2 separate regions of the Homo sapiens genome follow, and region 2 is linked to region 1. Evidence: fine-mapped expression QTL. Tissue or cell type: caudate. Region 1 holds a variant in brackets; the other region holds the start of a gene. All regions are shown on one strand. Distances are from middle to middle.

Evidence for each region. PIP is the estimated chance that this variant, and not a neighbour inherited with it, causes the effect.
Region 2: CHEK1 starts here. The variant in region 1 is fine-mapped to the expression of CHEK1 in caudate (GTEx, PIP 0.91).

Annotation. Positions count from the first base shown.
Region 1 is chr11:125,765,435-125,773,955 of GRCh38, forward strand. No RefSeq gene overlaps it. Among named protein-coding and RNA genes, the nearest start is that of PATE2, 9.1 kb to the right of the region's middle. The variant T/C (reference allele first, on the strand shown) is at 6,893.
Region 2 is chr11:125,621,052-125,627,217 of GRCh38, forward strand. It overlaps CHEK1 (checkpoint kinase 1), which reads left to right and starts at 4,112. Exons shown (of 13, transcript NM_001114122.3): 1 at 4,112-4,961; 2 at 5,698-5,782. The coding sequence starts at 5,718. STT3A (STT3 oligosaccharyltransferase complex catalytic subunit A) reads left to right here. Exons shown (of 18, transcript NM_152713.5): 18 at 1-2,040. LOC118567325 (a long non-coding RNA gene) reads right to left here and starts at 4,843. Exons shown (of 1, transcript NR_170378.1): 1 at 4,086-4,843. RefSeq lists enhancers at 4,278-4,787, 5,604-6,147, 5,708-5,757.

The DNA.
Region 1 (8,521 bases):
TAGCAGTGCCCTCGCTGTCTTTTTCAATGAAGCCACTTCCTCACTGAATCCTGGTTGTGGGGTAAAAGAGGTAGAAAACTGGCTAAGAATAGTTCCTTTATCTCTATGGGGAGGCCATTTAAGATTAGAAGTTTCTTATCATTTAGACATTCACTTGTCTGAATTTAAAGCAGGAACTTTGGGGGAGGTTTTCAATGCATCAGATAAGGAAATGACCTAGAAAACATTGCGCTGTGTTTCACAAAATTGTATGTATCTGGAAGAACAACCACCCTGCCACCCCATTTCCCTGCATATGTAGCAACACATACACAACCACGTCTCTGATTCCTCATTTATTTGGGGGATATAATAAAATGGAGTCCTCTTGCTATCCCTATTCAAACAGAGAGAATGACATAGAAATCTGTCTAAAATAGTAGTCTTCCCAACACAAAAAAAGAAAGAAAGAAAAAAGGTAGTAGATTCAAAACTTCAGCTCAGACTTTGTGAAGTCAATCATTGAGTATCAAATTACGGAGGTTTTGTTGCTTAAAAGTGTAGGACCCATGGCCTCATTCTTATGCCCCTGAACCTCTGGGCAGGCTTGAAGCAGGAGGATGAATAATTAGGACCAAGTAACATTAATTTCATCCTCATGGTTGATGGACTTATATTAGGTTCTAATTTACTCAGCAAAATATTTATCTCTGTAAATTGATGTTTGCATTTGGGATAAGCCAGTTTCCAACTGGATACCCCATGATGGAAGAGGCATTGTCTCACCTTGTATTGCTGGGAAGCTCTTATGAGGAACAGGAGTCCAAGAGCTGAAACCAATCCTTGCTCCTTGCACAATTTGGAGAGCTAAAGCCCATGCTAGCCTGTCCTCCTGAATAACATGCCCCCCATGTCTGCAGCAATGTTGATCAATTCCTTGCTTTGGAAGTAAAATTCCATGAGTTACTGAGTACCACTCTCAGACTTCTGGGAAGTAGACAGGCCTTACCTTATTCCTGAGTTCATTCCTTCAACAAGTATATATTGGATGCCTGCCACCTGCTAGGTATTGAGAAGTGGCTTGAGGTACTGAGAATACTACTTACAACAAAAGAGACAAGTGAAAACAATGGCGTTTTGAAGAAAGATTCAGAGACTTGGGGATAGAGGAACAAAGCTAGGACCTGGGTTATATCCACAAGAGGACCACCTGAGATAGATTTCACTTTCCTTCTCTTTCCATTGGACTGTGGAGTCATATTGAATGCGTAGTTTGCATTTTAGTTCTGCCTATGCCAGCTGCTCAGTAAGTCTGATACATTTATACATCCCTGAATGATAGTATTGTTGGAAATAGAGAAGCTGGGCCCACCTAGTTAAATTCTTTACTGAGACCCATGTCATGGCAGCAGCATCATATTTGGGATAAAGCTCCTACAGTTTCTACTGTACCACTTATTAGACTTTACGAAAGTAACTTGACCTCCCTATGCTTCATAAGCTTGTAGAAAAAATAAAATGGGATAATGTGCATAAGTGGCTCAGGTCAGCACTTGGCACAAGAAAATGCTCATTATCTATTTAATATTAAAACTATAATCATAATAAATTTTATTATATCAAGAAGGACAGTCGTTGAGTCCCAGGGAGTGACCTGTTGTAAATGAACGAGGGCTCGTGATAGAAATGAGATGTGCAGTTATAGCATTGAAGTGAATTATGAGCAAAATAAGACTAATCTTTTCCCTCAAATGTGCTTGCAAGAAGAGCACTTCAAAGGGGGAATTTTCAGGAAGTGTAGAAACTGAACTTGAAGAGGAGTATTTTGAACTGCTGCTGGACCAAACCCCTGAAACATACAGGCTTGTCCTCCCTTGAGGCAGAGGAGCAGCCAAGCGTAAGAAAGAGCCCGTAGGCCTGGCCCTAGATCCTTCCTGTGGGTTCAAAGCAGCTAATGCCTTGGAGTAGATGGTCAACACTTATCAGCCTGCGAATAGAAACCTGATTTCACAGATAGTATTGGAGAAAACATATTAACTTTCTGACCACCTCAGTAGAAAAAAAAAATCTTTGCTTATACGTAGAGGTTAAATAAGTTATTGCAGAGGCAATAACTTGGACCCAGGAAACATGGGAGCCCAGTTTGGGAATTCAGGACCCACTGGAGAAGACGTCCAAGGTTTTTAACAGTGAGACGTTATTGTAGAAGCTTACATTTCATGAGATGCAAGAACAGTTCCCGGCAAATTCTCACTGTTAACATAGTTAATGCAACAAGAAGAAGAGAGAAGAAACACTATGTTGGTTTTGTAACAAAAAGACTCAAACTCTGTAAAATATTTGAAGAGATTTATTCTGAGCCAATTATGAGTGACCATGGCCCATGACCCTGTCCTCAGGAGGTCCTGAGAACATGTATCCAAGGTGGTCGGGGTGCAGCTTGGTTTTATACATTTTAGGGAGACATGAGACTTCCATCAAATACATTTAAGAAATATAGTAGTTTGTTCCCAAAAGGCAGGACAGCTTAAAGTGGGGGCTTCCAGCTTATAGGTAGATTTAAAAATTTTATGGTTGACAATTGGTTAAGTTTATCTAAAGACCTGAGATCAATAGAAAGGAAATGTTTAGGTTAAGATAGAGGGTTGTGAAGACCAAGTTTTACTGTGCTGAGGAAGCGCTCATGAGACTTCAGAGGGAGTAGGTTGTAAAATGTTTCTTGTTGGGCTTAAAAGGGTGCCTGGCTCTTAGATGATTGTTTCCTGGGTCTGCAAAGAACGAAAAAGTGGGGGAAAGGGGATTCTCTACAGAAAATGGATTATTCCCACAAGAGACAACCTTGTTGCAGGGTAATTTCAAGATAATGGCAAGAAAATATATTCGGGGTTAAAATATTTTGATTCCCTTCCTTATTTGTTATGTGACGTGCCAGAGTCAGTTTGGAAAGCAGGCCACAATATGTAGGGTTAAATAAAATCCCTCCTGTGAGACTTCACGGTTCGTAGGGCACATTCCCCAAGCCCCTTGGCTAGGATTTGAGCAAGATAAAAAAATCAAAGTTCTCAGTTTGCAGGAAAGATAAGAAGCCTCTCAAGTTGGCATTCTGAACCCAAGCTCAGCCTTGTCAGGAGGCGCTGAAGTAGATCCGGCCGAGCAGCCGAGGGCCTGCGGGCAGGACCTCAGAGGCTTCTGAGACTTGGAGAAGTTGTAACAGGGAAAGGTTTATTCTATTTTTGATGTGATTTTTCTCTTTTGTGTCCTACAGTAGCCATCCTGATGCTGGTATAACCTAGGTATCTCTCTGTTCAGGAGTGAAACAAGATTTGGTACAGAAAAAAAACTAAAATAATATAGTAATAAACAGGGTTTGACATTTAAAATCTGATGACGCAACATGATTGCAGCCTCTTAAGTTGGGGAATTATTTTGAGAAGGGGTTTTCCAAACTCCTTTTATCTTTCATCTATTATATCAACAACTGAGCCTGAGGCACACATATCAAAAAACAGTCTCATGATTTAGACGGGATACTTTCAGCCCATTAGTCTATGAAGCCTCAGTGGCTCTATGTTAGAAAGAAAGAATGGGAAGAGGGGAGATGAGAGAGTAAGGATAGCAGAATGTCAGAATTTCTCAACTGGTTGTGTCTGATAGGTGGAGAGAAAAGTCACTGTACTGACTGAGGAATTTATTCTGATTACAAGAATTGAAATTTCTATTACACAATGGGGGCAAGAAAGACAATATTTGAAAATCAGAGAATCCACTGGCTCCTTTACCTAATAGTCCTGTTCATTAGAAAACTGTAACGATGGCCGGGCGCGGTGGCTCACACCTGTAATCCCAGCACTTTGGGAGGCCGAGGCCGGTGGATCACAAAGTCAGGAGATCGAGACCATCCTGGCTAACACGGTGAAACCCCGTCTCTACTAAAAAATACAAAAGAAAATTAGCCGGGCGGGGTGGCGGGCGCGTGTAGTCCCAGCTACTCGGGAGGCTGAGGCAGGAGAATGGCGTGAACCCAGGAGGCAGAGCTTGCAGTGAGCCGAGATCGCGCCACTGCACTCCCGCCTGGGCGAGAGCGAGACTCTTGTCTCAAAAAGAAAGAAGTAAACTGTAACGATGCAGTAAGACAAACTAACAAGCATTCCAATCCTGCACGGTATGCCCCCAGGTTGAGAACCCCGCCCAGCTAAGATGCTACAGAAGTAAGAGCATGGGATGGGAAGTGCAAGAGGGCCACTTTGACTGTCAGCTCAGACATCACAGCCAGTTAAGGAAGTGAAGGCTGCAGCAAATATTTTTATATTGTTTAGTCATTTCATTTGCCTTCCTTGAACTCCACGGCTTTATAGCAAGAGCCCTGATGGTGGCTGCTTCGTGGTCTTTTTGGTGACAGAATGATGAATTGCTATCACCTCTCAAGCATAGGATTGTAATGAGAATTTGTGCATTCTCTCACCCAGATGAAGAAGAATGGATGCTCAGAGGCAAAATGGGTGGGGTGTGCTGGGTGTGCTGGCTTTCCTGCATTTACCCCTTTCGCACCCATTCCCTACCCTTCTCCAGCCTGCTCTCTGCCCCATATCAAATATGGATTATATCACTGGGCCCCCAAAGCCTCTGGACTCTGTTTGAGTGACCAGTGGGAAGCTAATGCAGATCAGCTGAAGGAAATAGTGTGAGGTCACAGGCTTTGGTCTCCTGGTTCCCACTGTAGGACATGGCTTCGGGCTGGCTGTACTCCCAACAAAAAGTTGCTGCTCAACACACTTTCTTCCCAGTCCCAGCAACATCCTTTCCACCTCATCTCTTTAGGTTAAGGGTGGTGAAAATCCAACCTCCTCTTGCTCCAATCCCTCAACTCTCCTTGTGGTTCCCTTATTCCCTGCATAACCCTGTGTGATTAGACCCTTCATAAAAAAAACTTGTTGAAATGCTAATTTAATGTGCCATCTGTTTCCTATTTGAACCCAAATAATACTAACATGTTTCTTGAGACTTTGGCTAAAACCTTGAGACAGCCAGGTGATATAGAAGAAGGTGTGCTGCCCAAGGTTGATGCCGCAAAGTACTGAAACAGGTGTTTTCAGGAGTTACAGGACCAATGGATAATGAGGGAGCTTTGACCCGTGGGCTAGACTGTTTAACTGAAAAAGTGATGAGTATCTTAGGTTTGGTTACCTAGAAGCAGAATCTGAGATACGAATTCTAGTGCAAGTGATTCATTGAAAAAGTACTTTCAGGAATAACCTGTAAAGGAGTAAAGAAAGCAGAAGAGAGCAAGGGGAGAAACAAGGCACAAGCGTGGTTTCAGCTTAAGCATCAGGCTTAAGAGCATGCCAGGGGATAATTGACAGCACAGGCTCATCCCATCTCTAGGCAAAGGGGCAACCTCATGTGTCCCTGTATCAGTCATTTTTTTGTGTGTCACCCACAACAAGAGGCATTTCTAGGTGAGGTGGATCCCCTGATCCAAGAGCAATTCTCAAGAGAAGGGTGTCACTGGTAGCTATTAGTAGCTAATATTTATAGCACTGCCAAGTAAAGAGGACCTGGACAGGGCTCCAGTTGCATCTATTAGAGTCTATACCTTATTCACTGAGATCAACTTGTTTCTCACAGTAAAAACTACTCTATCAAGGCAGTTTCCCCAAATTAGCCAGAATTTCTTGCAAATGTTTTTAGAGGAGGGTTAATAGGAAGAACTACTCTCCACTGCTGCAGTTGGTCAAGGGGACATAAGGTATATTTATTACGTCCTTCCTCTCCCACACCAGTCTCACTTCTGCTGGTCTAGGTGGCTTGACAGGTGGGATAACCCAGACCCTTATCCTTGAGGGGTCTGTGCTCCTGGTCTGTATGAACTTATGAGACTACGGCGTTGTATTTTCCTATTCACATTTCACACTGGGCAGGAGAATAACAAGAGATGCCCCAGTGGGGCATGTTTATGAATATGTTTGCCTGAACACCAAACGTATTCCTTACTGCCTTCATATATAGTAGTAGTCTACCTTCTTGTGATGTTCAGGACCAATTACTTCTTCCAGCATAGTAACTGCTTTCTGTGTCTGTTAGTCTACTGGCACAGGGAGCTCAAATTGTCCAGGAGGCAGCCGTAGCTTTAAGTTTTGAGAGACACCTACTGAGTCACCTGATGAAAGGGTTTCTCCTCTGGACATCAGGACATCTAGAGGCACACGATGTCAAGCTACAGGGCAGCAAACACAAATCCCCCAAGTGGTCTCCCAAATGGATCTCCAAGCTTGTTGGTTTCCAAACTCACGTTTCTGTCTGTCGGGGGCACTACACCATATAATGGCCATTGGCTTAATGTTCCTGGGTCTGAGAACTGGCTCGGGTATGAAAACTAGGCAAGGGATTATGACTTGTCATTCGTCAGTTGAAGCCCATATTCTGCTCATTCATTTTTTATTTCTTTTGATCATATGTATTAAGCACTACTCTTGGAGGAGCACACAACTTGTTCCTAAGAAAACCAGGTTTTATTCGTTATCTCTGTAGAGTTCTAGGGGCCAGGATTCTATGGCTACCATCCAGTCTTGCTACCCATTACAGGAATTTTGCCTACCTCGAATCTGATGATTAAGTGCTGACACCTGGCTCTTCCTAGCTCGTGATCCTATCTTCCCCGTTCTTAGGGAGCCCAATTCTGTGGCAGCGCCTCTTTCCATCAGCTCCAGCCTACAGAGGAAAGTCACTAGTGATCTTCTCAATTATGCTGACAAATCCTTCACCTGCAGATTTTTACTTCCCTGATACAGGCCAGCAAGTATTTCTTCCAAACTTACATAAGTGATCTACTCTAACATGCTGAATTCTCTGAGCCTTTCGTTCCCCTCTTCCGCAATCTGACAAGGCAGTTTTTGCATTTCTACTTTATTTAATG[T/C]GGGCTGACACTTTTTGCAACTTGTCAAGAGCCATCCATCGGTGGATCAGGAACAATCAGTCTCCAGTGCACTTATCATGGGAAAGTGCCACATAAAAAAATTCTCCCTTATTTGGTTTCATATTCCATCCTTATCAATCCAGCACCCTCAGAATTTACTTCCAGGTATGTTCTCCCAGTTGTAGCCAGAATATGTCAGGTAGGCTCTTCAGCTCCTTCAGTGTCAAATCCCTCTCCTCCCTTAAAAAGAGCAGCACTTCCCCAGTTTTTCTATGATGAGCTTTGACCCAATTCATTGCTCTGGTTGCCAGCAGAGAAAGTACGGGCAGATCCTGGGAAAGTCAGGCATTATCCTGTAAGACATTTTTGTGGTCTTTCCATGCTGTTCTAGCAAGAAGACTGCTATCTTCCTGCATGGTCATTGGGACAAAAGAAAAATTTCAGGGCTTAAGGAGTTAAGTATACCAATCCAGATATCCCCATTATCCCAAGTCTCAGAGTCACACTCCTTCCTTATGAGGGCCCTGACTTTGGCTCAGGAGACTTGTCTGGGCTAAGAATTTCATTCTCTCTAAAGTTCTCCAACCCTTACAGTTGAATGCCTTGCCTCATTATCAGCTGCAAGAAATGAAGGTATTTCTAAATGCTGCCAAGAAAGGCCTCTGACTCACACTTTGCTCTAAATTTTTGGATTAATAAATACGAGCCTGCTATTTTCTGTCTTTGGTGCTCCAATCATGCTTAGCAACAGCCATCCAATGCCACAATCCTTATCATCACTATCATCTCTGCATTTCTCAGAGTCAGAGATACCCACAAGCAAATTCATCTTCCACCTCTTCTAAGTCCAAGTTCACCACAATTGAAAGTTTTAACAATCACACTGCTACCACATATCAGCAACGGTCAGTACTCCAAATACCACCATAGGGTACTCATTGACATTTAGCCAGTTGAACAATCCAATGCAATATTCCTTATTATGGCCTGCTTTTTGTGACCACTCCTGTTACCAACTGTCTTTGGCCAGGTTCCACAGAAGCAGAACTTGAGAAGAGGATTCTGATGCAAATAATGCAGTGAGGAAGTGCTCTCAGGAGAAAACTATAAGGGAATGAGGCAAACGGTACAATGGGGTGATGCTTGAAGAAGATGTGATTCAGGTGAAGTCAGGCTTTGTCCAAAAGATAACTCTGGAACATAAATGACACTATACCCAGCCCCAACTTGTGCAAGTTAACCTCCCTTTTATTCACACATATCAGTCAACCATTGGCTGTGGGTCACCCTTGGGGAGAGGGCAAACCTTCCAGTCATTTCAAGTGAGAAGCTCCTCCTGTCTGAGAGCAATGCTCAGAAGAGTGCGGCCATGAGTTGTTAGCGGGAAAGAAGCAGAGTTTCTCAAGGGCTGGGCTGTCAGTAGCTGACTGCTTAGTCATAATTCAATAGGGATTTAATAACGTGGAGGACAGTGAGAGAGTACATTTTTATGTAACTTTGTAAGAAGTAAGAACAAATTCATAATGTGTTAAAGTTATAACAATGGTTGCTAGATAAAGCAGAGGATGGCTACACACAGAAGGAAAGGAGACAGCTAGGCTCGACCATGCTTGCTTGTGTCTTCCAAGC
Region 2 (6,166 bases), 150 kb before region 1:
TTTTTTAAAAAATGTGCCTTATTTGTTTTGACTTATAACTGATTTGAGGGAGGCAAAAGCTATGCTAGGCTGCCAGAAGGACATAAGCAGACCTTGTCCATTCTCTTAGCTCCCTAAATTAGCCAAATAGAGACTTCTTTCTCAAATCAGGAAAACTATCAAAGACCAATTCAGATCCTACATTTACAGACAGTTTTGTCATAACCCTTTGCATTGCAGCACCTAGTACAATTCCTTGGAAACAGCGTGGCTCAATAAATTTTTATTGAATGAATAAATGTGGGACCAGAAGAGTGCTAGAAGAGTGCCTTTCTGGGCTACTATGTCTCTGTTCTCAATGTCTTTTATCCTTAGACGCTCTTTGACTTTATAAATCAGCAGTTTTGAAGACTCAAGACAAACAGTGAAATTATTGGTTTATCAATGGAGAGGAAGAAACTCTTCCAGCATTACATATAGAGCTTGATGGTCAGTAGGTGTTTTTGAATCAGCTTAAATATAATCATACATATCAATTTGAAATGGAGCTTTTCAGTACTCTCACTTATTCATGACACAGGAATGACCCTTTACTCAAAACTCTTGTGGTTGTTCAAAGGTGAGCTTCTTTTTCCCTTAGTCTTAGCCTATGTGTTGCTGTTGTATATTGTTACCAAGTTCAACTACCTAATTTTGAAGCTCTTTCCAAATAAGATACAAATTAAAAGGGGAAGCATTGCCAGTAACAGGTCCCTAGAGAGCAGTGCCAGCCTGCCTGCAAGAAAAGAGGAGAAACTTCTTAAAAAGTTTTAAGCCTGGGCAACATAAGGAGATTGTTTCTATGAAAAATAAAAATTAGCCAGGTATGGTGGTGTACACCTGTAGTCCCAGCTACTCGGGAAGATGAGATTGGAGGATCACTTGGGCCTGGGAGGTTGAGGCTACAGTGAACTGTGATTGTGCCACTGTACTCCAGTCTGGGCGACAGTGAAATCTTGTCTAAACAAAAACAATTTAACTGGGAAGCACAGTGGTCCTTGAGGACATTTAATATCAGGACAAAGAGCCTATGAATATATCACTGATGTATATAAACCCTAAGGCGTTAATAAAAGCTAACTGTTTAGTGTTATCCATTTAAGGGAACAGGAGGAATTGCATAACTTTTAGATTAGTCATAGTGGTGCTCCTAAGGGATATGCTGTTGTATATTTGTATAGCCAGGGCACTTAGCCTTCCAAACCAATTTATATACCATGTTCTTCAACTGTGGGTGAGATTTAGCCTCAAGATTTGATTTACTATATGTAAGTACATTACTTGATTTCTATAAAGAATCTTTAGTGGAAGAGGTTATTCTGAATTATTTATCAATATGATTAATACCAGTTAGAAATTATTAATGATCTTCCTTTATACTATACATAGGATAACTTTTAACTTGTCGCTACAGTTGTTGCTCTGAGGATCTTAATTTTGTTACTTTCTAGGCTACATGAAGCTATCTTTTTAAAAAGTGTACTCTTCATTTTCACTGTTATTGTGTACTTAGCATAAAAAACTCAAATCTAGGCCAGGTGCAGTGGCTCATGCCTGTAATCCCAGCACTTTGGGAGGCTGAAGCATGCGGATCACTTGAGCCCAGGAGTTCAAGACCAGCCTGGGCAACATGGCTAATGAACACTAAGCATAGTTTTGATGTCTTTCATATTAAAGACTTTCTCAAATTCTTGCTAGTCTGCTCCTCTTTAAGAGTGGGACCCTAGGCAGGGCGCAGTGGATCATGCCTGTAATCCCAGCACTTTGGGAGGCCGAGGCAGGCAGATCACTTGAGGCCAGGAGTTTGAGACCGGCCTGGCAACGTGGGAAAACTCTGTCTCTACTAAAAATACAAAAATTAGCTGGGTGTGGGGTACACACCCTGTAATCTCAGCTACTGGGGAGGCTGAGGCATGAGAATTGCCCAGGAGGTGGAGGTTGCAGTGAGCAGACATCATGCCACTGCACTCCAACCTGGGAGACAGAGCAAGACTGTCTCAAAAAAAAAAAAAAAAAAAAAAAAGAGTGGGACCCAAAAAAGCTGATTGAAAGGTCTGTTTGTAGGGGGTGTAGATGGGGATTAATAATGTGGGTTTCAATCTACTGTGATCTGGCTGGGCTGTTACATTGGGAAATCCATGATACTGATTTTTAGATTTTTATCTTTTGCATAGGTAAGATTCCCTTGAGAAGGCTTGCATATTCTCTTACTCAAGGATGTAAGCCAGGCAGTCAGCTTTCTGGGAGTAGAGTAGGGAAAGAAGTTGTAACAGGCTCAACCTTCAGTGGATAAAACTTAAACTTAATCCCTCCGTTTTCAGTAAGGTGCCCAAGCTTTTAACTGTGCCTAATGGTCTCCAGTTCACATACTGTGCATTTACCCTCTTAAATCTCGTACCAGCTTTGGGGAGGGACAGTTCCTTGGTTACATAGAAAGGGAAGGGATACGGGGATCTATTTGTTTTTTATGTAGCCTTTAAACCTACCCCTTTTAGCCCCATTTTTACCTCCACCTTCAGTTACCTGGTGTCACCAGTTCAACTTGAGCTTTTTCAGAGTTCTGTGATGTTAATTCTGCTTTCCATTGCTAGCTTTGGGATTCATCTTCATTACCTTTCATCTAAAGGCTTTCTGCTTTCCAAAATGTGTCTCATACTCTGTTCTTATGGGTTCTTTTAAATATTGGTATCCTTTACTATTAAAATATTTTAGTGGGCTTTCAGAAGAGAATAGAGGCTATTTCTATGTATTCTGTCTTTAACTGGTATTCTGCTGGAGTCTGTATATCTTTTTTTTTTTTTTTTTCAGGCTAAAAAGACTCCATCAGACACACAGGAAATTTGCAGGTCTTCCTCTTCGTATTCTTTGTTTTCAGCACACAGTGAGGAAACAAGAGAAAATGGGATAAATGATATAAAAACTTGCTTTTATTTTTATACCAGGCCCTGTGGCTCGCTTCTGTAATCCCAGTGACTTGGGATGCTGAGGTAGGAGGATCACTTGAGCTCAGGAGTTCCAGGCTGCAGTGAGCTAAGACTGCCCAATTGCACTCCAGCCTGGGTGACAGAGCAACACACCCTGTCTCCAAAAACAACAAACTGTAAAAAGATTACATGAAGCCTAATCTGTGATGTCATGATTCAAAACTATACACATAAGCATTTTAAGAGTTTTTTCCTTGATTTTTGTTCCTGACTTTGCTTCTTTAAAAGAAATGTGTGTTTTTGTTGTTGGTTGTTTGTTTTTGAGACGGAGTCTTGCTCTGTTGCCCAGGCTGGAGTGCAGTGGCACAATCTCTGCTCACTGCAGCCTCTGCCTCCTGGGTAGCTGGGATTACAGGCACTCGCCATCGTGCCCGGCTAATTTTTGTATTTTTAGTAGAGACGGGGGTTTCACCATGTTGGCCAGGCTGGTCTTGAACTGCTGACCTCAGGTGATCCATACGCCTCAGCTTCCCAAAGTGTTGGGATTACACGTGTGAGCCACCAGGCCCCGGCCTTGAGTAACATTTTATACTTGTTTCACTTTACTATTATCATAATAGCCAGTTATGCTTAGTGTTTGTATGTGGCCCAGTCTTAAGGACTAAGAAAATATATATGTATATATATAAAATATATACATATAAAAAAATATGTTTTTTTCCTACGGAATCATGCTGTTGCCCAGGCTGGAGTGCAGTAGTGCTCACTAACCTCTAACTCCTGGACTCAAACGATTGTTCTGCTTAGGCCTCCCAAGTAGCTAGGGCTACAGGGACACACCACCAAGCCCGACTAATTCCTAAATTTTTTTATTTGTAGAGATGGGGTCTCCCTATGTTCCCCAGGCTGGTCCTGAACTCCTGGCCTCAAGCCATTCTCCTGCCTCGCCTTCCCAAAGTGCTGGAATTACAGGCAGGAGCCACTGCGCCCGGCCAGTGCTGGAGAATGTAATGGAGATGATCCTGCCTATCCCTGAGTTCCAGTCTAGTTTACTGTCAGAGAATACTTATTTCCATTTTTCCTATTTTGTTCTTGAGTCTCTTTCCTCAGAATTTACTTTTCCACTTAAATGACGTACGCAGCTTTTAAATTTGCGTTGTAAGATTTATTTTGGCTCTCCCCGCCTGTTCTTTGCACATTAAAAATGAAAAAGTTTGTAGAACTAAGCTAAGCAGATGGTCTTCCTGCAAAAAGACCGGGCTGAAGTAAAGCATTGTTTTGGAGCTGGTTCACAGAAAAAAGGCAAAACTGGTTATCCTGACTTCAAGCTCCAACATAAACTGCTCGCTTTCTCCGGGAAACTTGCCCCGCCACACACACTTGACTGCGTGGCCAGTTCTTTCGAAGCCTCTCGCTCCCAACACGGAGTTCCTCCCATTTCTTCACAGTCGGCTCTCAGCAGCTGCTGCTGGTTTCTCGGCTCCAGCACCACGAGTACCGCACTCTGAGGTTTACAAAGCACTCTGCTTCACCGACTGTGATCCTCACAGTCCTGTCCGGTGGCCTCACGCAGGTGGCGGTGCAGCCTTTCAGGCCCAGAGCGGCCAGGAGCGAAGCCCGCAGCCCCGCCTGGAAGCGCAGCGCGGTCGGTCGCGCGCCCCTGAGGCTTGGAGGCCTGGGCTTCCCCCAGCAGCGCTCGAGCACCGCCCAGTCGAGCCTCACACCGGATGCCACTTCATATTTGGGCCCAGAGCTCAATTCGCGCCGATGCGGTCCGCCGTCCTTAAATCTCTTCAGCCAGGATCTCTCCCCGACTGCAAAGCAGCCCTGGGCGGGAGCGGCAACATCTCCACGTCACCCTTTTGGAGCCGCCGACATTCAGAGGGGCAGGACACGGGAACGCGCGCTGTCTTGCTTTACGGCGCGGGTGCGCGAGTTTGCGGCAGCGTGACGCCCTCAAGTTTTGGCGGGAAAAGCGCTGCATTTGGATTCCTGCAGTGGTGGGCAAAGGACAGTCCGGTGAGGAAGGGCGGCCGGTAGAGTAGGGAAGGTTTCTAAAGAAGGAGTTCGGGGTCTAGATTAGTGAGGGAGGGCATGGTGGGAGAAAGTTAGCATTGACTAGCGCAGGGGATTGGAGAGACTCCTGCGGAGGGGCGGTTTCGGAGGGTGGAGGAATGGTACCAGGAGGTTCCCGTTGTGGGGGCGGGGGCAGGAGGGACTAACCCGCTGCTAGCTAAGAACCCCAAGGAAGAGTCCCAGCCCTTCCTTTCGCCTCTGGGGGCAGTTTGGCCCCGCCCCGGCCTTTGGGACGGGTGGGGCTGTGGATGGGGATGGGAATTGGAATTGAGCAATTGGGAGGAGGCGCTGCCGCAGGCGTTTTCTGCCCCATACCGCTCCCTATATCCTCTTCCTCTCTTCCCCAGACCCCCACCTCTCCCTCCTCCTTCCCCAGTCGTTCGCCGGAAAGCATTTGTCTCCCACCTCTTCATAACAACAATTAATTTCCTCTGGGGCCTGAGGAGGGCAGAATTTCAACCTTCGGTGTGCTTGGGAGTGGCGATTGTGATTTACACGACAAAATGGTCAGGTTTAGAATAGTTGTTCGTGGTTGAAAGACTTGGATAAATGTGGATGAGATAGAAGGGGAAGGCAAGAGCTGTTAATTTTCGTGGGCAATCCTGGGGAGAGGCGGGGCTCAGTGGCTTCACTGGTGATCTTACACTCTACATCTTTTCTGGATTCCTGCCTTTTACAGCCGAGGTGCTCGGTGGAGTCATGGCAGTGCCCTTTGTGGAAGACTGGGACTTGGTGCAAACCCTGGGAGAAGGTGCCTATGGAGAGTGAGTTCTTTTAAGCTTGCCTTCGTTTTCTGAGTGCATATTCATTGTTTTGGAGTCTCACACTCTGGTGATTTAGAAAGTAGATGTTTGAGATCCAAGGGTTTTGGCAACTGAAGTTACACAGCCTTTTGCTAGGATTAAAAATTTTTTCCTTCCCTTTAAAAAAAAAAGTTTTCTTTGTAGAGAGCTGGAAGGGACACGAAGTTATTGTTTCCATGCCCACAAATTGCTTCTCAGGGTTTAAGCATTGCGGTTAATGAGCAAATGAGCAGACTCTGGAGATTGCCTGCCTGGTTTCAGATCCTTGCTCTATCACATACTGGTCATTGTTTTGTGATCTTAGGCAAGCTTCTTAATGTCATTGTGTACCTCTCCTTCACTACC